Linked DNA regions of Homo sapiens: all the other regions are linked to region 1. Evidence: fine-mapped expression QTL. Tissue or cell type: whole blood. Region 1 holds a variant in brackets; each other region holds the start of a gene. Each region is shown on its reference strand, or each on the opposite one. Region 1 overlaps CREB5 (cAMP responsive element binding protein 5). Region 2 holds the start of KLHDC8B (kelch domain containing 8B). Region 3 holds the start of NLRC4 (NLR family CARD domain containing 4). Region 4 holds the start of NFKB2 (nuclear factor kappa B subunit 2). Region 5 holds the start of PPIF (peptidylprolyl isomerase F). Region 6 holds the start of RNF13 (ring finger protein 13). Region 7 holds the start of NCF2 (neutrophil cytosolic factor 2).

The links. PIP is the estimated chance that this variant, and not a neighbour inherited with it, causes the effect.
Region 2: it holds the start of KLHDC8B, and the variant in region 1 is fine-mapped to the expression of KLHDC8B in whole blood (TOPMed, PIP above 0.99).
Region 3: NLRC4 starts here. The variant in region 1 is fine-mapped to the expression of NLRC4 in whole blood (TOPMed, PIP above 0.99).
Region 4: it holds the start of NFKB2, and the variant in region 1 is fine-mapped to the expression of NFKB2 in whole blood (TOPMed, PIP above 0.99).
Region 5: PPIF starts here. The variant in region 1 is fine-mapped to the expression of PPIF in whole blood (TOPMed, PIP above 0.99).
Region 6: RNF13 starts here. The variant in region 1 is fine-mapped to the expression of RNF13 in whole blood (TOPMed, PIP above 0.99).
Region 7: it holds the start of NCF2, and the variant in region 1 is fine-mapped to the expression of NCF2 in whole blood (TOPMed, PIP above 0.99).

Annotation. Positions count from the first base shown.
Region 1 is chr7:28,682,388-28,686,451 of GRCh38, forward strand. The region is part of intron 5 of CREB5 (cAMP responsive element binding protein 5); the gene reads left to right. Among named protein-coding and RNA genes, the nearest start is that of CREB5, 270 kb to the left of the region's middle. RefSeq lists enhancers at 2,766-2,815, 3,032-3,540 and a silencer at 2,924-3,093. The variant G/T (reference allele first, on the strand shown) is at 2,370.
Region 2 is chr3:49,169,580-49,173,643 of GRCh38, forward strand. KLHDC8B (kelch domain containing 8B) reads left to right here and starts at 2,019. Exons shown (of 6, transcript NM_173546.3): 1 at 2,019-2,106; 2 at 3,057-3,566. The coding sequence starts at 3,191. RefSeq lists silencers at 1,545-1,714, 1,935-2,034.
Region 3 is chr2:32,262,757-32,266,820 of GRCh38, forward strand. NLRC4 (NLR family CARD domain containing 4) reads right to left here and starts at 2,130. Exons shown (of 9, transcript NM_001199138.2): 1 at 1,982-2,130.
Region 4 is chr10:102,393,267-102,397,330 of GRCh38, forward strand. It overlaps NFKB2 (nuclear factor kappa B subunit 2), which reads left to right and starts at 2,439. Exons shown (of 23, transcript NM_001322934.2): 1 at 2,439-2,530; 2 at 2,622-2,714; 3 at 2,987-3,068; 4 at 3,183-3,223; 5 at 3,459-3,557; 6 at 3,638-3,789; 7 at 4,036-4,064. The coding sequence starts at 2,694. RefSeq lists a silencer at 705-1,104 and enhancers at 1,115-1,404, 2,455-2,504, 2,915-3,034.
Region 5 is chr10:79,345,551-79,349,614 of GRCh38, forward strand. It overlaps PPIF (peptidylprolyl isomerase F), which reads left to right and starts at 1,919. Exons shown (of 6, transcript NM_005729.4): 1 at 1,919-2,193; 2 at 3,526-3,556. The coding sequence starts at 1,999. RefSeq lists cis regulatory regions at 1,586-2,163, 1,663-2,704, 1,663-2,336, 1,663-2,214, 1,663-2,213 and 5 more, silencers at 1,693-2,102, 2,123-2,352 and an enhancer at 3,667-4,064.
Region 6 is chr3:149,810,889-149,814,952 of GRCh38, forward strand. RNF13 (ring finger protein 13) reads left to right here and starts at 2,327. Exons shown (of 10, transcript NM_183381.3): 1 at 2,327-2,465. RefSeq lists enhancers at 1,684-2,195, 2,061-2,170 and a silencer at 1,701-1,850.
Region 7 is chr1:183,588,446-183,592,509 of GRCh38, forward strand. It overlaps NCF2 (neutrophil cytosolic factor 2), which reads right to left and starts at 2,014. Exons shown (of 15, transcript NM_000433.4): 1 at 1,711-2,014. The coding sequence starts at 1,884. RefSeq lists enhancers at 2,034-2,293, 2,404-2,743.

The sequences.
Region 1 (4,064 bases):
TGGTCTGTGACCAGAGGGTTCACTGGAAGCAATTTGCAAAGGAGGACTTAGAAAACCACCTGGATGGTTATTGTAAATTAAAAAAGGAAGAGATGCCACTTTTTTCTGAATAATTTTTAATACTAGGTTTATGGCTGGGTACATGTGATAGTCATTACAGCTTATTTAACTCTGAAATTATCTGGCCCCTCAAACTCCACCGGGACTGTAGAAATCTTGGGTTAAATTTTAAAAACAACATTTGAAAGAAGATGATATACTTTTCCTTGAGGAGAATAAATTCAAACCTAAAAGTGGGGGGGGGGGGAAACCCCAGCTCTCTCTAGGAAGGATCTCCATTGTTTCTCATATTTGCTATGTTTCTCATAACGTGTTTGAGCTCAGAAATTCACCCAGGCACACAAAAGGTCTACTCTAGTTGGCTGTTGAGCCCCTCCATCCCTGCAATCCAAGTTGTGCCTTTTCTATTGGGTTATTTGGAAAGAGTCCAAAAGCATTCTGAACTCTGAGCTCAAATCTCAAAGGTTTCCACTTCTTCGGAGCCGAACATTTCATCAGGGGCTGGGAGTGTGTGAGTGAGTTACACCGAACAGCTGCGCGGTACCCACCACCCTCTCCCCAAGGATGACACGCTCTGCAAAGGAGGGTGTTGTAAGCATTCCTGAGCAAGCCAGCTAATCTGGAGACCTAGCCTGTTGGCCGGGGGCTACTTCTAAGAAGCCTCCCTCTGGAATTACAGCATCTTATGACTTCTATCTACGAAGCCCCCCTTCTTCAGAGGAGCAGCTAGGACATGGGGTAGGGGAGAAGGCCAAATGGGTGAAAAAGGAATCTCTTGAGTCAGAGGGGCATTTCTTTTTGGGAACAGGATCTTGTCTCTCTTTAGCTGCTCACAGGAAGGAAAATGGGAAAGTAGGGCTTCTTTTCAAGTGGGGAGGCACCCAGCAGCCAGTGGAATGCCTGATTTGGAAGGGGCAGGAGGGAATAGTTATGTCCCGAACAACAAGTGCAAATGTAAATATGCAGACCTTTGAACTCTGAAATTGATTTCAATTCAGGCCAGCACTCCAAAGTTGTTTTATTGGGATGTCGAAGTGTTCTGGCACGTTGGTGGCTTAACGGCGTCATCATCAGACCCAGACATTTCTGGGTCCTTGGCATTTGTCTGGGTTTTAGAAACACTGTACCCATTGGCGATGTCACTCCCTGATCAGAGGCACACTGGCCACCTTCAAACCTCTTGTTCTCTTACTCCTCCTGGCAGAAGCAATGATGCTGGCGGGTCTCATCTGAGATCCGTGCCCGGCATTGGCTGAAGCTATCATCTCCTTTGTTACTTCCCAAGCAAGGCACAGGAAAGCCATCTTTACATCACCTCTATTTAAAGCACAGGGTCCCTTTTGCCTATGTCACTGAAAAACAGCAGAAGCCTGGTATCTAGTGGATTCACCCCGGCCCTCTAATGTGGTATAAGGAAAATCCTACAGAGAACATTTTCCCATTGAGCTTACAAAAAGATGTAAATTTGGAAAACTCTACCACATATCCATTTTGCACCAAAAATAGTAACATAAATAAAACATTTAAATAAGAAAACTAAAGTGGGGAGGGGAGATTTGGGGGGTAGGGAAGGGAAAGTGAAAGTCCATAGCTTGATATTAACCAAGATGGTCAATGGCTCATTTAAAAAGGAAAAAGTAGCTTATGCAAAATCTTGCCAACCTGCCTTGAAGTGTAAAGGCTTGTAGAAGTTATTGAAAATTTTGTTTTATTTATTCCCCTTAGCAGAAGAAAAATCAATGTCTGCTTGGCAAGTCAGACGTAAATGAGTTATACAGGCCACTGACATGGTGGACCAAACTTTATAACAACCACATTTGCCGCTGTCAGGCCACAGGCTTCAGTGGCGCCAGCTGTAATTATGGCTGATCACCTCTAATTCAGAGCTGCCTGCCTTGATAAAGGTGTCACTCGGAGCTACTGTGGCATCAGCATCAATTGAGGATGTCAAGCCAAAGGGCAGCTTGCTGGAGAAAGCACTTCCCCACCCCAACCCCCAGGGTCCTGGAGACCCTTGGGCAAATATTGCTTTTTAACTCTTCACCCTGAGTACGGCAACACTCCCTGAAGCTGTGATTTAAATTCCAGGGGATTCAGATGAATATCCCTGACCTCCATCAGTGGACGTCTTTAATAAGCTGAGAGATTTCTCCAAAAACACAGTTTAGAAGTCAAGATCCTCTGTGCTTTGCAACGTGCAGAGACAATGTTTGTCTTATCTACCTGATTCATTGGCCACAAAAGGCATTAGGGGCAATAGACTGTAGCACAAGCCATGGTCATTTTTGGAAAAGGAAAAAAAAATTGCA[G/T]CTTCATGCCTTTCTTCTGCTTTTGTGGTATTTAAAAAAAATTCTAGCGAACTTCCCATTTTCATGTTACTTTTTTCTTTTTGAAGGAAACATGAAGTGTGGGGAGAAATAGCAAAACGGAGAGATGATGGGGTTAAAAAGCCCTGCTAATAGAGTAGTGTCTGGACTGTTGTCATTGTCGTGGTGGAGCCCTGAGTGGGGAGGTGTGAAGTGAGGGGTAGAATTCAGCCATTAAAAAGGCTTCACTGTCATTTGTGAAGGATCATGCTTGACTGCCCCCACCTCCCCAGGCTGTTTTTCCTCACTCTGTAATTAAAAAAGAGACACACATACTGTCTGTTCTCCTCTTTAAAGTCACAGACGGCCCCACCCACACCAGCACCCCCTCCAGCGAGTTGAGTTGTGGGGGCACAGCCTGTCTTTCATTTTAAGGGAGAACTTGTCTTCCTTCCCTCTCCTTTGGAAGGTTCACCTGAGGGTGGAGTGCTAATCTCAGAAAGGCAAGTTTTGTGTTTTGTGGCTGGGGTCTTTTTCCTTTAGCACCTGACAGGGTGACCCATAGGGGCCAAGGGAGAAGTGACTGTGATTTCACAGCCCTTGGTGGCTCCAGACACGGGCACGTGTTTGGACCAGAAGTGGTTTTGCCCTCGCTGACAGGGAGGTCAGATGCGAGAAGTCTCCGGAGGGCTGGTGGTTGGCATTCAGCAACAGAAAATCCCATCCAGCTCCAGGAAAAAAGGGCCCTGGGCGATGGAAACCCTGTCACCTGGTTCTGAACCAAAGCCCAAGCTGCTAACTGAGGTTAGTTTTTCACACTCAGACCTTCCAACCTGCCATCTTTCACTCCCTGCTTCCCCATCTCTACACGTGTCTTGATGTTATTTCCCTTTCTCCAAACACAGGGCACTCTTTTTTTTTTTTTTTTTTAACCAGTATTTTTTTTTTGTTTCCAGCAGAACCAGCTGACCCCTGCCTGCAGAACTCCGGGTCCCTCTTGGAGCTCTCTGATGGCAGCTGTAGGGCCATCCCCAGCGGCACTGTTTCCCCCTTTGTTTACCCGTTTCTAAGGGCAAGTGCACCACGAAGGCTCTCCGAGCCTGGAACTCAGCCTGGGGCTGTTTTGGTTACATTGAAGTTTTTGCTTCAGTTCTGCCAGATTTAAGTGGTGACTTCACTAGCACTGAGCTAAAAAGGAGAAGGGGGAGGAGGGCGAGACCAGGAGAAAGAGAGCAAGTGAGCGAGAGCCCAGCCGGAGGGAGAGCCAGAGCTAGGCGCAAAAGAAGGGCCAGCACATTACATCATCGCTTGGCCTGGAATCAAATGGGAAGGATATGACTCACTCAAGCTAGTTAAGCTTTGGCTCAAATTCTACACACACTCATTCCAGAGCTCTCATGTTCTGCACCTCAGGAGGGAATTCAGCCTCAGTGATGTCCATGAGGTTTGTTTTTAATTTTATTTTCTTTTCTCCTGATTTTATAGATTTTTTTTGCCCCTACTGCCTTCTGTTTTTGAGCCTTCGTCCTCCTCCTCCTCCTCTTCATTTTCTCCCCCTTCTCCCTTTCTGCCCGTCTTTGTTTCTCCTCTTCTTCCTTCTCCTCTTTCCCCAGCCCCTCCGCTCCTCTTCTTGCCCGAAGAGGCATTTCTTTTCACTTCGATCAGAGTTTTTGTTCTAGCACAGAGACCTGAATGAGT
Region 2 (4,064 bases), not on the chromosome of region 1:
GCGGAGCTTGCAGTGAGTGGAGATGGCACCACTGCACTCCAGCCTGAGTGACAGAGCAAGACTCCGTCTCAAAAAAAAAATAAATAGATAAAAAATAAAGATTCTCAGAGGCAGGACAAACAGCAGGAGGGAGTTGAGGTCACAAGGGGCAAAACTTTGAAGATGCTAGCAAGATTTAGTTAAGGACCACAGGCACATATAGTTTTAGCTATATGGTATTTCATGATGACTTTTCCAAGAACAATTTTTGGGGAGGAGTGGCAGCACATTGAGGTGACAAGTAACAAGGAGGTGGAGCCTGTGAGGACAGATGGCTTCAAGAGTTTGACTGGAGTGGAGGAAGGGGAGACTAGAGAGACTTGGGGTGTTGGGAGGTATCTAAAGGCAAGTGGCTTGTAAGTGTTTAATTGCTGGAAAGGAGGAGGAGGGAGCTTGGAAAGGGAACAGTAGCAAATGTGAAGGGGGCTGCAGAGCAGTGTGAGCCTCTTGGAAGCCTATTGGCAATCACAAGAGGGTGGAAACAGTGCCCCAAGTGAGGGCACTGAGGAGCAAGTCCAAGGTGAAGTGGGACAAGGAGGATTGAGGCCTTCAAGTCAGGGTCTGTGCAGTCTGTAACCAGCCTTGGCACCACCATTTCTGTGCAGGCCGACTGAATCCAACTGACAGTCCCTGAAAAGAGCAAAGGCTCTCTTCTCCGGTCATGCGGGAGGGTCTACCCATAGACTTCTGGGAAGGCCAGATGTGAGGGAGGCCAGGGAGTTAATAGGTAATGCCCCCAAACAGCTCTCAACCCATGACTAATGGAGATTTGAGAATGAGTATCTCAGCTCCCCTTGTTCTTGGGGGCAGCAATGATGTAAGGCCTATGTTCTACGCTGGCTCCCAGAATCCCCAGCAGGATTTGGTCCCAATGGCCCACAGTGGTAGCTTGCTTGATGACACTTCCTTTATTGGCTGCTTTCCTTGTCTCCTTGCCACTGCTGGTGTTTCTTGGCCTCACCTCCCATACTAACTATATGCATGTATATCTTTGTCCAGGTCTGCTTTGGGGGAAACTAAGATAAGCACTGTCCATGAAAGGGGGACAAGGCAGTGAGCAGACACAGACAACTGCAAGGACCTCTTCCCACAGGTACCACTGACCTGTACAAATGGGCCCTCAGCTTGAAGACTTAGCTAATACTCTGAATGCTCAGAAGATAGGCAGGGCCAAGGTCTGGGCCTGAGGTAGGTGGGCCCCTGTCACACTAGTTTGCTCTTGCTTGACCCCAGAATTGGTTAGAGGCAAGCTCAGGATACTAAAAATTGATAGTTATAATGTGCCTTGGGTCCCAGAGTAGCCCAGGTCTCTCAGGCCCTACAGGATGAGGCCAGAGTGACCCACTGGGAGGTCCCCTGGCCTCTGACTCTTCCAGCACATTCTCTGCTCAGTATCACTCCTTCCAGGAATTCTCCCCACCCAGGTTTGTAGAAGGGCCAGTGCCTTCTGTTCCTCCACCCCCGCTAGCCTCAGTGTACACTGTAAGACCTATTCCTGCTTTATGCCCAGGTAAGGGCGCCCCAGGCTGCCCCCACACGACAGAGGCCCAGGCCATGTCCCCAGTGGCCTCCAGGGGGCGCCGCCGGGAAGCCTGTAATTGGGCTCCTGGGAGCTCCGCGGAGGTGGGCAGGCGCCGGCCCCTCAAGCCCTCGGGTTCGGCTGGCCTGCTCGACACAGCCTGCGCACCCAGGCTGGGTCGGGCTCAGAACTGCCCCTTGCCATACACGTGTTGTGTCGCTCGCCGCTGCCTCATTTCTACTCTTGCCCGAGGTCGGACGCTAAATTCTGTCAGGCCCAGTGTCCAAGTGTCCGTTTATCTGTCCGTTTGCATATGACCGTAGATCGGCACGCCCTGCTCCAGCTGCGGCATGTGCAGGGTTAAGGCGAGAGGAGGTTTCCCTGAGTCGGAGGGGGAGGGGGGCGAGGGGCGGACCTGGCCCAGCCCCGCCCCGCGCCGGAGCAGTGCCGGAGCCCCGCCAGAGCCCGACTTCAGCCCCAGCCAGATCCCGCGTCAACGGAGGCGGAACGGCGGACCCCGTACCCTGGCAGCATCGGAGCACCGGCGGGTGAGTCCCGCGGGAACCGCGCTCAGGGGAAGTTTGGGGCGCGGGGTGTAGAACCCCAAGCGCGTTAGCCCAGACCCGCCCCCCACATCCTTGAGCTGGAAGTTTGGGGCCAAGAGGCCCTCCTGCCAGGGGTCCAGGAGTGTAGCCACCAAGAGAAAGGGGTGGCTGGAGAACTTGGGGATCTCCTGCGAGGGAACCCAGAAGTCCAGCTGCCCATTCCTGGTGGAAACGCCCTGGACTCAGACCCTGGAGTCCTGTGGTCATGAGATTTCTCCAACGGCCCCCCGCCCCAACCCCACTTCTGGACACCAGGGAATCTGGCTTCTGGGGGGGTTTGGAATGGGCAAACTCCTGAGGGGGGACCTCGAGAGGAGAGTGTGGAACCCTGGTGTTTAGTCCTCCCCCTAGTCTGAAACACACCCTGACTCTGGTCTTTTACTAGTGGGAATGGTTTAAATTAACCCTGTGGAATGGCCCCCAGGATGTTGTAAGGATACTCTGGAGTCTGACCCCTGACAGCAGGCGTGGGGACCCCCAGGCTGCCCAGGGCACCCTGGAAGCCAGTAAGGACTCCCCTCATGCAGGACCAGCGTGAGGCTTGTTGAGGGGAAAGGAAGGGTCCTGGATGGAGAGTCCTGTTCTAGTCACCTTACTACTGCCCTCCTAGACCCAGATTTGACCCAGTTGCTGAGTGGTTTGGGTAGTGGGTGAGAAGGAGAATCCTTCATGCCTCCATGGGAAAGGGGAAAGGCTCCTGGGTACCTGGGGCCTGCCCTCCTTCCCACTCCAGGAGGGCCTCCACAGTGGTGTGCTAGCCAGAGGGGTTGGGTTCTCCCCCTGCCTTTCCCACCAGTGATTTTGGGCCAGCCCTGCCCTTAGCTACAGGCTGCTTATTTGTTTCCTGAGGGGCCGGTCAGTGCCCTGACCCCTGTTTTCCCTCTTTCCTCCAGGTGAAGGCAAGGTCCCTGGACTGGTCATATACCTCTTGTGGCCCTGGCAGAATCAAGATGAGGCCCTGTCATGCCTCCCCAGTGAGGCCTACAGTCTGAGCAGACAGCATGGCCTGCCACTGGCAGTGAACACCATGTCTGCAGGAGGTGGCCGGGCCTTTGCTTGGCAAGTGTTCCCCCCCATGCCCACTTGCCGGGTCTATGGCACAGTGGCACACCAAGATGGGCACCTGCTGGTGTTGGGGGGTTGTGGCCGGGCTGGACTGCCCCTGGACACTGCTGAGACACTGGACATGGCCTCGCACACATGGCTGGCACTGGCACCCCTGCCCACTGCCCGGGCTGGTGCAGCTGCGGTAGTTCTGGGCAAGCAGGTGCTAGTGGTGGGTGGTGTGGATGAGGTCCAGAGCCCGGTAGCTGCTGTAGAGGCCTTCCTGATGGATGAGGGCCGCTGGGAGCGTCGGGCCACCCTCCCTCAAGCAGCCATGGGGGTTGCAACTGTGGAGAGAGGTGAGTGGCCTCCCAAGGAAGGCACTTCAGGTACCCTAACACCTTTTATTATTTCCTGACTTAGTCCCTTACCCTCAGAGACTGAACAAGAGCTGTAATTTTTACATGGGTGCCCAGGATGTGGCCTTGTCCCCTGTATCCTTTCCAACCTAGATTTGAGCTGCTGCCTTCTATTAACTGCCTTTTCTGGCTAAGGTGGGAGGCAGAGCCCAAGCCGATCCCAGGATGATGGGAGACCCCAGCCATGTTCCTGCCCCACTCCTCATTTCTAAGAGATGGGGGTGGGATGGCCTAATGACTCCCAGGGTTATAAATAGTCTGGGGTGGGGGAGAGGAGTAGGGCCTTGGCTCAGAGCCTGTGCTTAGACTTCCTGCCCCACCCCCAACCCTTCCCACACGCCAGGGAGCCTGATATGGACAAAGGCCAAGCTGATCTGGGATGGTTGCCATGGAAGCCCCCAGCTGACTGGCCCATTACCCTAAGGCCCCCAGACATGT
Region 3 (4,064 bases), not on the chromosome of region 1:
CAGAGAGAGACTCTGTCTCAGACAAAAAAAAAAAAGAATAGGACTGAGACCAGTGTACTCTCTTGGAATGTAGCTATGGCCCTGCAACCCCTCCCCGCAAGCTGTCCAGTGAATAACTGAATTGGGTGGAAGAAGTCCTTCCCCCACATTTGTACATTGGAAAATAATATAATAATATATATTATATATATATAGGCAATCTGCCTGCCTCGGCCTCCCAAAGTGCTGGGATTACAGGCATAAGCCACCATGCCCAGCTGGAAAATAATATTTAGTACTAATTCTAAAATTGGCATTTTCTTAAAAAAGGTTACATGAGCTCCTCAGAGAACTGAAGTTTCTCTGGACCCATATAACCCACGTCTATGGGGTCATTCCCACACCTCACAGATAAAATAAGGGAAAGAGTACATATAATTAGGAGCAGACAGGAAGCACACAGAAATGGAAAATGTGTGTGGGCTTTGGCATTGCAGATCTGAATTCAAATCCTCACTCTGCACCTTATGAGGTAAGTATCCCTAGACATGTTACTTAGCCTTTCCGAATCTTGCTTTCCAAATCATGCATAATATTCACCTCCCTGGACTATTGTGAAGATTAAACATGAAAGTAGTTGTGACAAAGATGGTCAGTGGGTATTATCTGTCTTCCTTTCTAGTAAAAAGGCTCTAGACTAGAATGTTCTTAGGTCTTTAATAGGCTTCAGCAATCTCACATGTTAATATTAGTGTTATGTGCTGAACTGGGCTTCCCCCAAATCCATATGTTGAAGCCCTGAACCTCAGAATGTGACTGTATTTGCAGACAGAGCCTTTAAAGAGGTCATTAAGCTCAAATGAGGCTGTTATGAGAAGAGGAAATCGGGACACACAAAGGGAGATACCAGGAATGTGCATACAGAGAGAAAAGGCCAAGGAGGGAGGCGTGGGGAGAAGCCAACCCTGCTGACACCTTGGTCTTGGACTTGCAGCCTCCAGAACTGTGGGAATATAAATTTCTGTTGTTTAAGCCACCCAGTCTATGGTATTTTAAACACATTAATACGACTAATATTATAAAAGTGTGTGAACAGTTAAGAAGTGTGCTGACCAGGTTCTATCCTAGTTTTGTAGACAATTAGCAGTGTGATGTAGGGCAGGACATTTAACTCCTCTCTACCACATTTTCCACCTCTCAAAGCCAGGCTGCAAGGATCTACTGAGATAATGTACATAAAGACCCTATCACGAAATAGGTGTCCCGTAAAGGGTGATTTCCTTCACTTCTGTCTCCAAATATCAGGTTTCTCATCAGTAACTTGGGAGATTGGATGGACTAAGTAGTCCACCTCGTTCCTTTCAGCTTTGATCATCTGTGATTCTAACAACAGTCTTAGCAACAAGAGTGAGTTTCCTGGCCGGGCACGTTGGCTCACACCTGTAATCCCAGCACTTTGGGAGGCTGAGGTGGGCAGATCACGAGGTCAGGAGTTGAGACCAGTCTGGCCAACATGGTGAAACCCTGTCTCTACTAAAAATACAAAAATTAGCTGGGGCGCGGTGCCGGGTGCCTGTAATCCCAGCTACTTGGGAGGCTGAGGCAGGAGAATTGCTTGAACCCAGGAGGCAGAGGTTGCAGTGAGCCGAGATCACGCCACTGCAGTCCAGCCTGGGTGACAGAGCAAGACTCTGTCTCAAAAAAAAAAAAAAAAAAAGAGTGAGTTTCCTTTCTGTAATGCCAAAAAGTGTTTCCAAAGTCCTTTCCATCTCACAGTAGTCCAAGGGGTACATGTACCCCTTGAACCTGATGAAGCCCCAGCAGACCCGATTAACCACCCCTAAAGGTTTCTCGGCAGGCAAATCCAGCCAGGCATGCAAATCACACTCGTCAATGTTAAGGCTTTTGTACATCCCAGACACAAGCTTTAAATGAATGTAAACCCAGATTTTAATATTTGGGCCCCAGACCTTAAAAATCCCATTCTCTCTACCCACAGTACCTGGCTGAGCAATCCAATTGCCCTCTTCTTGGGAGACCAAGACATGTTTTTAAAATAAAGTTTCTTTGTATTTGCTTTCCGTTTCAGTGAGGCCTCGAGTTCTTGTAGACCAGATACCTTCTTGTTCTGTGAGAGGACAGTGTACAGAGAGGGGAACTGCTGAGCAGTTCCTTTTTTTTTTTTCAAAGCACAGTAAGAGTGGTTTGGACACAAGTACTACCAGTTCAGAAAGGGAAGATGGGTGTAGGCAGGAGTAGCCGGGGAAGAAGTAGAACTTCAGAGTAAAAGATGCAAGAGCTAGAAATTCCGTCAAGAAAGGAATTACTCATTTGTTTCCTGTTTGTTCACAACATATGAATTCATTGCTGTTGAGTTACTTATTCTATACCTTAAAATGAAACAAAGTCTTCTGAACATCCAACATATATTTTTTTTCTTTTTCTTTCTTTTTTCTTTTTTTTGAGACAGAGTCTTGTTCTGTCACCCAAGCTGGAGGGCAGTGGCACAATCTCAGCTCACTGCAACCTCTGCCTCCCGGGTTCAAGCGTTCCTCCCGCCTCAGTCCTCCCAGTAGCTAAGACTACAGGCGTGCACCACCATGCCCGGCTAATTTTTGTATTTTTAGTAGAGACAGAATTTCACCATGTTGGCCAGGCTGGTCTCGAACTCCTGACCTCAGGCAATCTGCCAGCCTCAGCCTCCCAAAGTGCTGGGATTACAGGCGTGAGCCACCATGCCCAGCCACAACATGTATTTTTAATGCTTAACCATGGGAGATAGAGCGGTAAATGAAATGAGCCAGCTTAGTTGGCTAAAGCACATTGCTACTGCATTCAAGGTCATGCTTACCCCTGTACCTTGAATCCCAGAGGACTTCCAGCAGATGTGTTCTCTCAGTCAGCAGGGTTCTGGGCAAGGTCACACAGGGCAAACAGATCACCAGTTTTGGTCCACTCCACCGATGACGCACGGGGACACCCTCCGGAGTATAAACAGCCAGGGGCTTGCACAGGCACACTCACATTGGACGTTTGTGTTCACAGACTCCAGGAGGCCAGCTTATACTCAGCTGAGGACTGAAGAAATCTCTCTGCACTTCCCTTGAGGATGACATTCTTGCATACTCTTTCCTCTGTCTTTGCATAAACTACCAGGAACATGTCTTTGTGTTACATAACTTCTTATTTCAAAAAGAGCATTCTGACAGTAGCCTATCTGCCATAGAGGGATACCAAAGTTTCCCGGCAAATAAATGTCTACATCCTGGGTTTTCTAAGGGGGCATCAGTGTCAGTGTTTCCCAACTTGTGAGGTGGGTTTCTCTGAAGTGAGATTGAGGGCTACACTATCAGCTAGATTTTTAAATTGTAATGAAACCTATATATAAACATATGTTCAAGAGAAAAAACTGCAAAGACAGCCACCAAAATAGTAATGATGCTTATTGCTGGGGAATACAATTATAAGCAATTTTAAATTTCTGTCTTTGGCTTATCTGTATATTCTAATTTTATTTATCAACTTATTTATTTTTTATTTTATTTGTTTATTTATTTATTTATTTATTTATTTGAGACAGAGTCTCGTTCTGTTGCCCAGGCTGGAGTGGAGTGCAGTGGCTCAATCTTGGCTCACTGCAACCTCTGCCTCCCAGGCTCAAGCAATTCTTGTGCCTCAGCCTCTCAAGTAGCTGGGATTTCAGGTGTGGGCCACCACCATGGCTAATTTTTTGTATTTTTAGTAGAGACAGGGTTTTGCTATGTTGGCCAAGCTGGTCTTGAGCTCTTGGTCTCCAGTGATCCACCTGTGTTGTCCTCCTAAAGTAATGGGATTACAGGCGGGAGCCACCATGCCCAACCTGTATATTCTAATTCTTCATAGCAAACACCTATTACTTTTGTACTAATAAATGATGTAATATAGAATAAAAAGGGAAAATGTAGAAATATGGTTGTAGTAGGCTGAATAGTGGCTACCCAAATATCCCAAATCCTAATCCCTGGGAACTGTAAATATTGTGTCTTTCCAGATATGTTCCATTTAAGGCTCTGAAGATGGGGAGAGAATTCTGGATGATCCAGGTG
Region 4 (4,064 bases), not on the chromosome of region 1:
GGAAGGCCAAAGTAGGAGGATCACTTAAGCCCAGGAGTTTAAGACCAGCCTAGGCAACGCAGTGAGATCCATCTCCACTAAAAATTTTAAAATTTGCCAGGTATGGTGGTGTGCACCTGTAGCCCCAGCTACTCAGGAGAGTCAGAGAATCGGCGCACCCCGGAGTTCGAGGTTGCAGTGAGCCATGATCACGCCACTGTACTCCAGCCTGGGTGACAGAGCAAGACACTGTCTCAAAAACATAAATAAATAAATAAATAAATAAATAGGCCGTGCGCAGTGGCTCACGACTGTAATTCCAACATTTTAGAAGGCGGAGGCCAGCGGATCACCTGAGGTCAGGAGTTCGGGACCAGCCTGACCAACGTGGTGAAACCCCCAACTCTACTAAAAATACATAAATTAGGCGGGCGTGGTGGTGGCCGCCTGTAATCCCAGCTACTCGGTAGGCTGCAGCAGGAGAATGGTTTGAACCCGGGAGGCAGAGGTTGCAGTGAGCCAAAATCCCCTCACTGCATTCCAGCCTGAGACTAAAAAAAAGAGGCGATTTCCCACATCGGTGGAAATTTGAGCTGTTTAAACTCTGGATGCCTTTTTCAGTTCTAATATTCCAGATCTCCTTGGTGGATAAACACTTCATTTCCCTTCTCCTGAGCAGAGCTCCTGAGCCCTGGCCCGCTGGGAACCTGTCACTTCTAAAAAAGTTCGAGGTCCGGACTGTCTCTCCCGGAGCCTTGAGGCTGATGAGACGGAGCGAGAGAGGGGCCGGGGCCGAATGGAGTCTACTCGCGGGCCCAGGGAGGCCGCCAGAGGGCGCCCGGGACCGACCGCAAGAATAACTTCCTTCCTCTTCCGCTAACTTCCCGGCAGCGCGCCGCTCAGGGTGGGGGCCCCGAGGGCTGGGGCCGTCGGCTTCCCCCTGGGGATCCCCCGCTTCAGAGAAAGCCAAGCGTTAGGCGCAGCCAAAGCCGAGAGGCAGCGGAAGCTCCCGGCCCGGGGTGGCGCTGGGTCAGCGGGTACCTTCTCGGCGGTCCCCTGGCCGGCCGAACTCGCGCCTGGTGTCCTGTCACCCCGCTCCCCGCCCTGAGTGAGCCTGTCCCCTCTCAGGGGCGCGCCCGAGTCGCTCCGGGTTGGCTGCGCCAGTCCAGAGTTAAACTTTCAGCCAATGAAAAAGGGCGCGAGGCGTGACGCACGGAAACGTCATGGGAATTCCCCCCTCCGGGGGGCCGAGAAGGGGCTTTCCCGGCCCTGAGCCCTGCTGGCAGGCGAGGTGTCGCGACCGGTCCCAGGTGGGTCGGGCGCGGAGAGAAGCCGCAACCAGAGCCGCCGCCACGGTGAGTGGCTGGATTCAGACCCCTGGGTGGCCGGGACAAGAGAAAAGAGGGAGGAGGGCCTTTAGCGGACAGCGCCTGGGGCTGGAGAGCAGCAGCTGCACACAGCCGGAAAGGGCGCGCAGGCGACGACACTCGGATCCACGTCGACACCGTTGTACAAAGATACGCGGACCCGTACGTACACCTGTACCTGTGCTGGCGCACACACGGCAGCGTCCGTGCAGTCGCACTCGCACACACATGCACACGGAGACGTGCCCACCGGTGCACTGGTGCCTGCACCCACACCCTTCACGCACAAACTCAAGATACGCTCACCCGTGTCCGTACATCAAGACAGGCGCTGACACACACCCACACTGAGAAGCTCGGGATTCACCTATCTACACACATGCTCGCTTGCACACTCATGTTGACGCCATGGACACACAACATGCAACCAAGCACTACAGCCGAAACACACTTGTGGAGCTGTGATGGAGACACACTCTTGTATTAGGTGGGGGGGGGGGGGGGGGAGCGTGCAGAGATCTCCCTGTCGCCTGCGCGCCCAGAACCGGTGCGGTGTGGGACCAGCTGCTGTTGTGAGGTTTGGGAGAGAGAGAAAAGAGCCCACTCCGAGGAGGAGACACTTTTCCCGCAGCCCCAGAATCGCGTTCTCGGGGCAGAACCCCGGGGCCTCCCACAGGAAAGAGCCCCCGCCTACAGGCTGTTCGAAGGGGAGGCCGTCCGACAGCAGGAATGTCCCCCCAAAAGCCCCCGGGGTTTATCAGCCGTGGCCTCCCTCCTGGCAGAAAATCCCAAGGTTGCTCCAGACCGGGGGAGGGGAGCGGGAGGCGGACTTGGCCCCAGACTGCCAGCCTCCTCCCGGCCGTGAAAGACCCTCCTGTTCCCTGCCCTGGAGGGAGGAGGGGGCTTAACCCCCACCGGGGCTTCCCGGATTCTCCTAGACCTCTGCCCGCTGAAAAGCAGCGGGAGCCCGTAGACTGTCGAGGGCCTCCCGCCCCTCCCGTCGCGAGGGCGGGGCCAGTGGCGTCATTTCCAGGCCCGCCCCCTCCGGCCCCGCCTCCCCTTGGTATTTTCGGGACTTTCCTAAGCTGCTCTAACTTTCCTGCCCCTTCCCCGGCCAAGCCCAACTCCGGATCTCGCTCTCCACCGGATCTCACCCGCCACACCCGGACAGGCGGCTGGAGGAGGTCGGACCCTCCCCCAAATCTGGGCCCCCATCTCCCGCCCACCCCCATTTAGATCTGACCCCCTCCCCCACGCCACTCCTCCCAACTTTAGGCGGGCGTCTAAAATTCTGGGAAGCAGAACCTGGCCGGAGCCACTAGACAGAGCCGGGCCTAGCCCAGAGACATGGAGAGTTGCTACAACCCAGTGAGTCATGCCGCCTGCCCCTGACCCGGCCGGCTGCCCCTCGTGTCTGTCCACCTGTCTGCCCGAGCCCCCTCTGCTGCCTTACACCTGTATGCTCGCAGATGCTCTCAGCCTGCCAGTCTGTCCATCTGTCTGCAACTCTGCCTCCAAAAGGAGCTTTCTCTTGGGTCTGAGGAGGAGGGGGGAGTGACCACTGAAGACTTGGAGATGGGAGGTGGGGCTGTGGGGGGTGCTGAGAGTCGGATGCCACCCCCAGTCTGTCTCCAAACCAGGGTCTGGATGGTATTATTGAATATGATGATTTCAAATTGAACTCCTCCATTGTGGAACCCAAGGAGCCAGCCCCAGAAACAGGTCAGCAAGTTCACTAACCTCCCCTAGTCCTAAAGCGGGGGAGGGAGAGCATGTGCCCTCTCTCTGGGGGAGGGGCTGGGAGATCGTGGCTCAGCAAGGTCTCTCTGTCCCCAGCTGATGGCCCCTACCTGGTGATCGTGGAACAGCCTAAGCAGGTGAGTGAGCAAAAGGGAGGGTGTGGAATGGCTTCAGCTTTGGGGACAAATGGGGTAGTGGTAGCTGGCTGGCCATGGAGGAGCCATTGCCGAAGGAGGCCACAGGGGATTGGATGGTCACTGCTGCTGATCAGAGTGCTGTAGTTTGGTTCAGGGCTACTACCAGGCACTGCGGTCACTGCTGGCCTGGGTGGTCTTCCCTGATCACAATGCTACTATGCCCTTGGACCTTCAGAGAGGCTTCCGATTTCGATATGGCTGTGAAGGCCCCTCCCATGGAGGACTGCCCGGTGCCTCCAGTGAGAAGGGCCGAAAGACCTATCCCACTGTCAAGGTGAGCCAGGATGGTGCTGGAGGGTGGGCTAAGTGGACAGCATGCCCAAGGCCCTGACTGACAGTCCCTGCCTCTCCTAGATCTGTAACTACGAGGGACCAGCCAAGATCGAGGTGGACCTGGTAACACACAGTGACCCACCTCGTGCTCATGCCCACAGTCTGGTGGGCAAGCAATGCTCGGAGCTGGGGATCTGCGCCGTTTCTGTGGGGCCCAAGGACATGACTGCCCAGTAGGTGCCCTCTACGCCTGGCCCCCACTGGTATGCCCGTCTGCCAGTCCCAGGCCCCAGCCCACCTCCATGAGCTTAGCATCTGACCAAGGGGAAAGATGTAGGTTGGCCCCAAACCCAAGGGCCTAAGTAGAAACTCCAATGGCTTCCTTGAGGAAGTAAGGCTGAGCTGAGCCCTGGCAATGGGAAAGGTGCCTCAGGAAGAAAGAACTGCATGGCCAAAGGCCTCCGATTCTCTCTTCTCAGATTTAACAACCTGGGTGTCCTGCATGTGA
Region 5 (4,064 bases), not on the chromosome of region 1:
CAGAGCTGTCTCTCAGGCAGAGTTCACAGCTGGGAAAGGGTTCTGAGAACTGAAGTGGTCAAGTGAATGAAGGCAGCACTCCCCTGGGGTGGGGATGCTCATGCTTCATCAGGATGGGGCATAAACTGAGTCCCCCCAGGAGCAGGCTTGAGAAACAACAGGGTACGCTGAGCTACCTGCTGTGGCTGAAGGTCCTGTGAGCTCAGGGCCTGGAACTGGCCGCAGGGAAGCCTGGGGCCTTAAGGAAGCTTCATGACAAGGCACATGGCGTGATTCCTCCACTCTCAAATCCACAGGATGCACTGGTAGAGGAAGGTCTGGGACATGTGCTGAGGGCTCAAGTGGGCTCCCCACTCAGGCCTGCTCACCTCAGGGCACAATCATAAGAAAGGAGGGGCTGCTCCCCAGGGCAGAGTGAGGCCCCATTCTGGGCTGGGACCTGGAATGCATCCCACCTGGGCTTCACTGGGTGCCTAGGCCCCTCCTAGGCCAGGAATCGGAGAAGGGGGCTATGAACTTCCAGAAGCCAAGCTAGCCAAACTTCCAGAGGCCAAGCTAGCATTCTTATGAAGCTAGGGCACTGCTCTGACCTCATGAATTTGCTTGGCTGGCATTTTGCTGCCTGACCTGTTCCCATGAGCCCATTCAGGATCTGGGGCAGGTCAGTCCAGAGCTGGTCCCTACTCCTGCCCACCTGCCTCCAAGGCTCAGCCCCACCCCTTTCTCTGACCCCTCAGGCCTCTAACTGAGACCGCAGCTCTCTGAATCCCAAACTGTGAGAAAGACAGTCCAGACTCTGTCCATCACAGATGCCCACAGGCACAGTACTTAGTTGACAAATCCATGTCTCTCTCGTTCATTTTATCCTAAGAACAGACACGAGAAAAAAGCAGGATGAGGAGCATGATCGCACCCTTACCCTCCAGATGGGAAACTGAGGCCCAGAGAGGCCTGGAGCACTGGTGCAAGCTGGTAGCAATACTCCAGGGCTCCCTAGCCCTAGCCAGTGCCTTCCTGTGTCCAGGCCTCAGCTTCCCCTGGGGACAGTACAAGTGTTGGGCCAGATGCTCTCTCAGGTCCCTGCGTGGCATCCATTTATTGCAGACCTCCCACCACCTTGCAGTGAGGGTGGCTCTGGCTGCTGGGAAGCCCACTTTCAGCACGTGGGGTTTAAATGCTCCTGCTGTGGGTCTCCCCACTGAGTCCCCTCCCAGGGTGCATGCTGATGGGAGGGGGCAGCTGGCAGTCTGCCCCGGGGCTGTCAGTGTGGGTCCTAGGAGGAGGGATCAGACCCAGTCCTGGGGAGGGCTGGGGGCCTGAAAGGAGCATGATGAGCCCAGGCTGCGTTTTCAGTCTTGCTAGAAGCAGGTCTGGTCCCCAGAAACAACTAGAGACAGGCCCAGGCCGGGACAAGCAGGCTAGGGGGCATCATGGGAGGTGTCTCAGCTTATCTCCTCCCTCTTGCGCCTCTAGCTCACTAATCCCGCCTCTCATCTCACCTTTCTCTAACCCTCTCAGACTGCAGGACCTAGGGCAGCAGGGAAGCTTATTTGGCCTGAGCCTTACCTGCAAAGGGCTCAAAGGTAGACTTTTGCTATTATATTCAAATTGCAACGTATAGATGCTCATATTTTGGAATTAATTACGTTTTAGCAGTTTTTCTTTTTTTAAAAAAATCTGCTGGTACCTTAATAAACATGGAACCAGCAACCTTTTGCCAGGTGTCTGTTCTCCGGGTCTCTGGGCCTGGAGGCGGGAGTGTTTCAAAGCACTTCACGCTCCGCGGCCCCACCGGCTGGCTGCGCTGCCCGCTGCGGCCGGCAGGGGTAGTCCACGGACAGGCCTGGAGGAGGCGGGACGGGGGCAGGGCCGGGAACCTGGGCAAGCCAATAAAGGCTGCGGCGCGCGGCTGCGCGGGACTCGGCCTTCTGGGCGCGCGCGACGTCAGTTTGAGTTCTGTGTTCTCCCCGCCCGTGTCCCGCCCGACCCGCGCCCGCGATGCTGGCGCTGCGCTGCGGCTCCCGCTGGCTCGGCCTGCTCTCCGTCCCGCGCTCCGTGCCGCTGCGCCTCCCCGCGGCCCGCGCCTGCAGCAAGGGCTCCGGCGACCCGTCCTCTTCCTCCTCCTCCGGGAACCCGCTCGTGTACCTGGACGTGGACGCCAACGGGAAGCCGCTCGGCCGCGTGGTGCTGGAGGTGAGACCGCTCGCAGGGCCGGCCTGGGCGCGGGACACGGGCCCGGGGAGAGCCCTGGGCCCCGGGCGGCGCGGTGCCGGGCGCGCTGGGTGACCTTGGGCCTCCCCATGCCGAGCTCTGGGCCTCAGTTTCCCCATTTCTGAGAATGGGCGTCAGAATGATTTCTTCCGGCCTCCCTCGGAGCACTGGAGCGGGGGAGACGGGAGGGAGGGCACGTGTGGAGGAGAAAGCTCAAGGTCAGATCGCAGAGAGGGAGGGCTCAGCACCTCTGGGCCGGCCCGGGCACGAGGGAGGGGCTCCAGGAGCCTTCTGGGGCTGAGCCTAGATCCGGAGCTCCGAGGTGGGTGTCGGGGGTCTTGGGGTGAGCGTCGTGGCCCAGCGGGTGCTCACGTGGCGGCCCTTGCACAACACGGAGCGCTTCCTGGCTCCGGCCCCGCCCCTGCGGTCGGGCTCACACTGGGGGTGCTGGGAAATGGAGCGAGAGGTGGTTTCCAGCAGTAGTGCGGGCCCAGTAGGCCTCAGGCCCCGGCCACCTGGTGGACCCCAGAATGCCCCTCCTGCGAGTCGGGACACACTCAGAGACAGTGTGCCCGGCGCCTCAACCCCTGCCACTGTCCTTGGGGGCCACACTGAGCACCTCCCCTAACTCTGTTTTTGGGTCTTTTCTAAAGCAAAGTAAGAAACAGTCACCAGGGTAGCTTTAGAGGGAAAGCCCTAGTGGAGCCTTCAGGTCGGCCACACATTGACAGCAGGGGTCTGTTTGTGTTGACTGGCCCGTATCCCAGGGAGCCCTTAGTATTTCTTCTTCATTCTCAGTTTCTTCTGGAAAATAGGGACACCCTTCCTGCTTCCATTTGGTTCCAGGGTGGGTCTTGCAGCTTCGAGGGTAGAGGCTGGCTGGGATGGGGCTTCAGCCTTCCCTCCCCACACCCTCATGCCTCTCCCTGGGCCTCAGTTTCCCAACCCCGAATGGAGGAGCTGGTCTGGCTTCTACCTTAGACACACTCTCTTGTCCCTGAATTTCTGATGCTTTGGGCCCAGCTGTGGGAGCACTGCCAGCTGTGTCCACAGAAGTAGGCCAAGATAGCATTGTCATCTCTTCTGACAGATTAGGAAACCAAGGCCACCTCCTCCAGCCTTGGGTTCAGGAAACGGCTCCCAGAAATGATAGAGCTGCCTCCCATGGGGGTTGGCAATAATGGGAATGGAATGTCCACGTGCTTCTTCCTTAGCCTCCTTGGCCACTGTGGGGGTGGGTGGGTGCTGAGAGACACCCACCTTCACCTGCCTCTCCAATGACCATCCTCTTTTGTCCTTCTTCTCCCCCAACAGCTGAAGGCAGATGTCGTCCCAAAGACAGCTGGTAAGACAGGGCCTGGGGCCTTCTGAGATGGGTCTAGAGGGAAGGGGGCCAGGCAGGGCAAGGTGGGTGGCGTGATGAGAAGAGTCGGGGCTCAGAGACCCCTGACAGATGGGAGCTCCATGTGTGGCTCAGCCATTGGGTGCTCTGGGGCAGCCCTGCCATCCCTCTCTGGGCCTCAACGTTGGCTCTGCCCTCCTCTCTCATAGTAGCTGGGAGCCTCAGAGCCAGTGGAAGGCACATGTAAATTTCCCGGAGACTTCCCCACTCCTGGTGCCCAGTGAGGCAGGGTGATGGGCACACAGCCCTTGAGTCCGTGCCCTGCTGGCCAGCACAGCCATGAGCCTGTACTCTTGTCACAGTGCTCAGGTACTGAGGACAGGGAAGGGGAGTGACTTGTCCAGTTACATAGCGAGTTGGGCAGAGCAGACCCAAGAGGTGGGCCAGAGTCTTTATCCCCCTGTTCACTGCTGGGGATGTAGCAGGGATTTTGGCTGGAACGGGTATGACC
Region 6 (4,064 bases), not on the chromosome of region 1:
ACAAATGACACATTACCTTGTTCATAGTTGAGAGAACTATACCTATTGTTATCTGAAGAGCAGGTTGAAACCAGAAGTAAAATATTCTGTACTCAAGGTGCCTTTAAGGAATAAGCAAAGCTCTTTGTCTGAGCGTGGTGACTCATGCCTGTAATCCTAGCACTTTGGGAGACCGAGGCAAGAAGATCCTTTGAGGCCAGGAGTTTGAGACCTGCCTGGGCAACATAGCCAGACTGTAAGGCTAAAAAAAATAAAAAAATTAGCCAGGCCTGGTGGCACATGCCTGTAATCCTAGCTACTCCAGAGGTTGAGGTGGGAGGATTACTTGAGCCCAGGAGTTCTGGACTGCAGTGAGACATGATCTCACCACTGCACTCCAGCCTGGGCAACAGAGTGAGACCTTGTCTCTAAAATAAATAAAAATAAAACAACAAAACCCAAAGCTCCTCTCTGTGGACTTAATTTTTTTTTTTTTTTTTGGAGATGGAATCTTGCTCTGTTGCCTATGCCCGAGTGCAGTGGTGGGATCTCAGCTCACTGTAACCTCTGCCTCCCATGTTCAAGCGATTCTCCTGCCTCAGCTTCCCAAGTAGCTGGGATTACAGGTGTGCACCACAATGCCCGGCTAATTTTGTATTTTTAGTAGAGACGAGGTTTCACCATGTTGGCCAGTGTGGTCTTGAACTCCTGACCTCAAGTGATCCGCCTGACTTGGCCTCCCAAAGTGCTGGGATTACAGGCATGAGCCACCGCACCCGGCCTAAAAAAATTTATTTTGATGTTATGCAAGAAATCTGATTTAATATACCAATTTGGGATAATTTAATGAAAAAAATGCTTATAGAGATATTATAAATGTGTTTATACTAATTAGTCTTCTTAGTAATATTCCCAATGCTGACTTTTATTTATGACTTTCTTAAAGGCAGAATTGTGATTTAAGTATTGAATGTCTTTGCAACCAATGAAAAGTTAAGACTACATAGAATACTCATAGGATACACAGAAGAGGAAAGTACCTTTGATAGCTTTTATTTAATTTTTTAAAATTTGATCTTAAATTTCTTGTATTTGAATTTTATTTGAGTAGGTAATATTTGCAAGGTTCAAAATTCAAAAGGCACAAAAGGATACACAATAAGGAAAGAGTCTTTTCCCCATTGCTGTGTCCCACCTACTCAGGGCTCTCCAAGCAATCAAAGTGACAAGTTACATCCAATGGTATTCTACTAATACTCTGTGTGATAGCCTCCTCGCCACCATTTTTAAAAGATGATGTTGAAGGAGTTGAAGCCTGTAAAGGCCTTATTAAGGGTGCCTTATTATTTGAAGCAGAAGTAGTGCCTGATTCTATGTCTCCTGACATTTCTTTCAGGACTCTGTAATATTTGCCTAAGTCACACTGCTTTTGTAAGGTGGCGAGTTGGCAATGATTAATCAATGTGGATGGTACAATCCGGTAATTTAAGTTTCGACTGGTTTAAGATTGAGACAACCAGAAAGGAAGGCTTATCAGAAGGGCGGCAGGGGAGGAGATTTTTGGTTCATCAAAAGGAGGCAAGGGTTTTAAAAGGCTGACCTAGGGCCTGAATCACATGGTTTGACTTTTGCTAAGCCCCGGGGATGGCGCGTGTCAGGCCCAGAGTGCTGATGCCAGCGTGGATCCGAGCCAGGCCTCAGGGGACTGGCGTTCAGACCTCGGGCCGCTCGCATCTCTAACAATTTGAGCCCTACTTTAAGGTGTGGCCACGGTCCCCACCCACTCTGATCTCAGACTGGGCACGGTACGGAAGGCGGGCGGATGAGGCCTCGCCCTCGCCTCTTTAGTAGGTCGGGTGAGTGTAGTGTGCAGGGAAGAGACGCGTCAGCGCCAGGGCCAGGCCCGCCCGGGGGCAGCCCGGCAGCCGAATCTTGGGCTACTCTGTCCCAACAGCCGGAGCAGATCAGACCGACCGGCCCTGCCCGCTCGGTCCCGCGCCCTCCAGACCCTACGGTCTCCGTTTCTAGGGGCACATGGTTAGCGGCAGGCGCCCACAGCCAATCCACTTTGCCAGCCTGCCCCTTCCTCTGCCAAGAGCAGCTTCTTCAGCCGCGCTCCAGTTCCGCAGACGCCTGCCCCACCCTGCTCTTCCCTTCCAGGGAAGACGGATCACGCGGCCAAGAACGAGACTCGCAAACTGGGCATTTCTCCGAGCCGGGCTAGAGCAAGTAGCGAGACTCCGCGTGAGAGTGGGAAAGAGCCTTAACAGGCAACCATGTTGCCCAGTGGGTTTTCTGTGCCTTTGGGTGCGGACCAATGAGGCGCGTGGGGCGGGACTTCCGCTTCGCCTAGGTGTTGTCGTCCCTGCTAGTACTCCGGGCTGTGGGGGTCGGTGCGGATATTCAGTCATGAAATCAGGGTAGGGACTTCTCCCGCAGCGACGCGGCTGGCAAGACTGTTTGTGTTGCGGGGGCCGGACTTCAAGGTAAGACCCTGTCCGGCTTCGCGGCAGCCGGGCAGCTCGTTATCGAGCGGCCCAGAGAACATACCCCGCTTGTTGGCCCTCGAGCTCGGAGTCGGCCCTGCTGCTGAGGTCTTTGCTGCTCCTCTAGAGCTGGGTGAGAAGTCAATTAGGCTTTTTGCAAAAGGAATAAAATAGCCTTGCCCTCGGGGGACCGAGTCTCCCCTGCACTCTCATTCCGCGAGTTTGTGTGTGTCCAAAGTTGAGTTACCGGTTTTGCTTCTCTCATTCCCTTCTTGAGGCTGCAAGAGCCTGCCTGGAAAACATGTTTGGAAGGCTTTTCTTGGTCAAGTACCTGCCGCAACGTCCTCGGGCACATCGCTTGACTTTAGTTGAGGGGGCTGTTTTGTCTCTGAATAGAAGGAGGGCAGTCACTTCCTCTCTTTTACCCCCACCCCCTTTTTCTTTCCCTGGAAGCTCAGATTGCAGGTTTGGGACTTAACCCCTGCTAGGGCCAGATACTACGGTCAGTCAGCAGCTCTGCCTGTATGCTTGACTTGACTTGACTTGCACTTATTAAATAACTTTGTCCCAGAGAGAAAGAGAGAGTGGGCAGACATCGAAGCCAAACAGCAGTATCCCGGAAGCACTCATGCAACTTTGGTGGCGGCCACTCAGTTTTCTCTGCCAGTGTCTGGTAAATTCCTCTATTTTGTCCTAATCTGACAATAGTAAATAGTAAATTTCCAAAACTGTCGTTTCATCATCAGTTTCAGCACCGTGGGCAGCTGCTCGGGTCCTCTCTTGTTGCCCCAAACCTGCCCGGCTATTACTGTTCGTCAGTGATGCAGCAGAAACAGTGAAAACTGATGCATTCCTTTCAACAATGATGTGTTTGTTCTCCAAGGAGAACATCTGCAGTTTTTGATACAATATAAATAAGTAAGGTGGCTGTGCCTCCAAAGAGTTCTTCTGGAGAAACAGATCAATTCAAGATTTAAGGTAGGGCTTTCAAGAGTTTATGCTATTTAAGCACAGTTTTTTAATGGGTGGACATTAGCTCCATCTCGAAGTAACAAAACTGGACAGTGATAGCAATTAAAAAGAACTTTAAACAGGAGGTAAGAAGTGTAGTGCAGTGCTGTAGTGCAGGAAGTGTAGTGCAGTGCTGTAGTGCAGGGCCCATAAGGATTCATTAATAGATTTTAGAATCAATTTAGTACATTGACATAAGCTTTATAAAGAAAGAAAAAATACCAGAGGACATTGTATGGAATAAAAGTAAATATTATGGCAAGAAGCTTTTGTTTCAGTTTTTAACAGTATGTGTGTGTCAAGAGGAAGATGGAAATGTAAAGTGTATTATGGATTATGGCAAAAACAAATGTTTCAAAATACTAAATTCCAAATTTGGGAGTCAAGCTGGGTTCAGCTCTGCCATTTACTAATTCTGTGACATTTTCCGTAAATAAGAAATGAGTTGTTATGAGGATTAAATGAAACAAAATTTGTCTATTACATAATTTTTTTTTGTTTTGTTGGAAACTGTTGGAGAGAGGCACAGTTATTTTTCTCTATGTAGGGAATGAGAACTGTTTTATTAGTTTTTTTTTTTTTAACCTC
Region 7 (4,064 bases), not on the chromosome of region 1:
GCCTGGGTGACAGAGTGAGACTCCATCTCAAAAAAAAAAAAAAAGAAAGAAAAAATGATATCTAATGTAATAATGAAATTTTAACCCTTGTTGCATTTCTTGTATTCCTATGAATGTATTGAACATTCAGTTTAAATAAATAATAAAATTTATTGCAAATGAAAATAATTAAAATATTATATAAATTGTTATATTTGTTTACTATACAAACTTATACATGAATAGTATACAATTAAAATGATAATGAATAAGAATGCATATAAATGCTAGTAGGAAGGGCTCAAGCAGGAAAACAAAGAAAGGCAGAAGGAATGAGAAGGCTAGAAGCAGAGGAATGCCAGGAGAAACAGAGACATGTGGGCCTGAAGGCCTGGGAGCTGAGAAGTGAGTGGTGGCCCACACAACCTTGCCAAGGATCCCATATCCAGGCCAAGGCAGGAGGCTACAGTCCCTGCTGGCATAGCTGTGCCCAGACTAGCTGCCAATCTCTTCTCCTGGACAATGTGCACTTTGTGTCCATCAGCCCTCAGAATGTGTGGTGCTGTTCACTCAGCCCCTCAGCAGGCCCCTGAGAGGAGGTGGGGCCATGTCCTTCCTCCAGCCAGAGGTGGGGGGTCCTGCCATGCTCTGCCTTAGAGCCTGAGATTGACTTGTCAAGCTATGTGAGAACATTTCAGTCACTTCTCTGTCTTCCTGTCAGGAGGGTGTGGCTGAGGCTTGTTTACCTACTGTTGGAGTGTGGAAGGGACTGATTCTTTAAGGGACCTGGGGAGTCAACCACTGCCACACCTTGCAAAGACTGGCAGTAATCGGTAAAAATAATAACTAACTCTTATACAGTGGTGTGAAGTTCCACGAGACATTAATAGTTTGGCATCTCACTTAATTTTCATGATATTTAGAAACTCAGGAAGCTGAAAGCCAGATGTCTACATAGGCTACATAGCTTGCTTAAGACTAAAAGTCCAGAGAGAGACAGAGGCTAGGATTCGATCCTAGATCTTCTCCTTCCAAACTCCATACCCTTTCCACCTTACCACAACCAATCAAAAAAATAATTATCGAGAATGCTTAACTCCATACTATGGTATTTGAGTGAGAAAACATAACGAAAAAGATGCGAGACATCCCACACCATGCCCCCAGCAGACATCACTAGTCAATCACAGTACAATTTCCTCTTGCCAGCCTCAGCATCTTTAAAAGAGTCTCCTTTATAATTGATCAGAATTGTCACTTGGGATAAAAGCTATTTTTTGTAAGTGCCTCCCTTAAATCTCTTGAGCAGGCAAAGTCGACACACATGAAAGTCTTGGAAAGCCAAAAGAGGTGCCTTAGAATCAATAATCAGGTGTAAAGCGCTGGGATAGATAGAGATTCTGTGCCCAGAAGGAGTTCTGTGTAGAAGAAAGTACGACTAGGACAGCCTTCACAAAGGTGTTAAAGACACTTGTAGAATGATTTTAATTTAGAAGATGGAGAAAGAGGCAACCCTGGCTGCCCCTCACCTGCTCTCCACCTGGAGAGCTTTTAAAACTGGCTGCCTGGGGCCCCTCCCAGACCAGTTAAATCAGGCTGTCTAGGGGTGGAGCTTGGGCAACTTTTGTTCTTTTCAATCTCCCCAGAGGTTAGGTTTCCGAAATGCAATGGGGTTGAGAATCATAATAACAAATGCACAGAGGAGGCCCGGAAAGAGGCACCTCCACTCACCTTCTCTGCTTCAGTCATGTTCTTCAGGATAGTGTACATGCAGCCAATGTTGAAGCAAATCCGGGAGTGGGGGTCCTGGACGGCACTGAAGGCATCCAGGGCTCCCTTCCAGTCCTTCTTGTCCGCTGCCAGCACCCCTTCATTCCAGAGGCTGATGGCCTCCACCAGGGACATGATTAGGTAGAAACTAGGAGGCCAAGAGAGCTGCCAGGAGACAGAGAGAAGACAGGTTGGAGCGTCTCCCCTAGCAGGGCTGCCTTAGTGGCCCCCAAGGTGTTCACTTTCTGGGCCAGATGAGTAGAATGGGGCCCAGCCTCCCTTAAGATAACTTCTCAGTGTTGCAAATGCATCAGGAAATGTCCCCACCTTTTGGCAACTGACTCATAACCCTACCATGAGAGAGAAAAGGAAAGAAGCAGAGAGAGAGAGGGCGAGTAGGGGTGGAGTGTGGAGGAGAGAGGAAGTACATCAGCTGCTGCCTGAAGGATCAGTTCCCCAAAATGCTTCTGCTCTGTCACCCAGCTCCTCTTCTCTCTCCCACCCCTGTTCTGTGGCAGCTTCTGGCCAAAGTTCTGCTTCTAGAGCCAGGGTAACCTTGGCAGGTAGAGGCACCTCCCTGGTGATAATGACAGGAGGCAGCCAAATGCCTAGGCAGATAGGGGCAGGTCCCTGGTGAAACCCCACCTTCAAGCCAAAAACAGCCTGAAGGCTGAAAGACTAGGCTACTGGTCCCAAATGAAACCCGTGACCTAGAGTGAGAACTTCTGTTCCTGTTTGTCTGCTCTTTCCCAATTAATTATTTCTGACTAATGCCTTTTAACCAATTGAATGTTGCCTTTTCCAGTACTACCTATGTCCTGCCCCTCCCCTATTCTGAGCCCATAAAAGCCCCAGACTCACCCGCACTGGGGGGACTTTCCTGCCTTTGGGTAGGGGAACCACCCCTGCATCCCCTCTCCACTGAAAGCTGTTTTCATCACTCAATAAAACTCCCCACCCAGGCCGAGTGGGCAGGCCATCTCCTGCAGCAGGTAGTGTGGCCCACTGAGGCCTGGGCAGGGTGTCACCAGCCAGAGGTTCCTGGCTTACAAAGTGATGGAGAAAAAATCCTGTGTCACTGGGCCTTGATTTCCACACCCTTGTTAAATGGGAGTGTCAGATGAGAGGATAATTCTTTCCAGTCTTGAATGAATTCCTTGCTCACTTTTTTGTAATCCCATAGGCTGTATTAATATGTTAGTGTTTATCTTGAGCTGAAATTATCATTAACAAATTTTTGAGACAGGATAATCTTTGGAGATCCATCTGATCTGGGCCTGAAATAACTTTTTTTTTTTTTTTTTTGAGACGGAGTTTCACTCTTGTTGCCCAGGCTGGAATGCAGTGACACGATCTCAGCTCATTGCAACCTCTGCCTCCTGGGTTCAAGCAATTCTCCTGCCTCAGCCTCCTGAGTAGCTGGGATTACAGAAGCCTGCCACCACGCCCTGCTAATTTTTGTATTTTTAGTAGAGATGGGGTTTCACCATGTTGGCCAGGCTGATGGTCTCGAACTCCTGACCTCAGGTGATTCGGCCTCCTCGGCCTCCCCTCAAAGTGCTGGGATTACAGGAGTGAGCCACCGTGCCCAGCCGAAATAACTTTTATGAACATTCATGAAGTTCAGAGGGGACCAATTTCCTGCAAATGTCAAAATTGGGAGCCACATGACAGTGAATTATGACTTCTCCCATCTTCCAGTGAAAAATTGAAGAGATGAAAGTCCTGCACTGATGACTAATGGATTTACTAGTCTCTGAAAAAACAGATTTAAGAGTTCTTTCCTTGCTTTTCCAGAAAAGTAAAAATCAGTAAAACCTCCCAGAGGAATAACTGGGGGTAAAGGGTATAGCCAATTTGGCTTGCTAAAATCCAGGCTTCTTTTTAGGTAAAATGCATGTTTATGGGGGTCAAATACTTAGATGCAAACTCTTGTTTTGTAGCAACTGAAAGAATTCACTCATTATCACCAAGCTTCCCCTAAAAGCCTGAAAATAAAACTTAAAAATGTATACTCCACAGTGCTTGTAGGATTGAAGGTGTGAGAATTAAGAAGACATGTGTGTCTTTGTCCAGATTGTTTTCCTGTGTTTACAAGGCCTTCCCAGCTCTCTTCTTTGCCTGGCAAACTCCTACTCATCTTTCAAAGCCCAGTTTAAATGTCACCAACTGTGCTAAATCTAGCCCTGAACTCTGGGTAGTAGGAGAATTTTCCTCTCCTTTGTACCACCTTTACCCAAAAACTTGCATCATACTTACTGCAATTTATCTCTTTATCTGCTCAATTCATGGGCTCCTTGGAAGTTGGGACCATG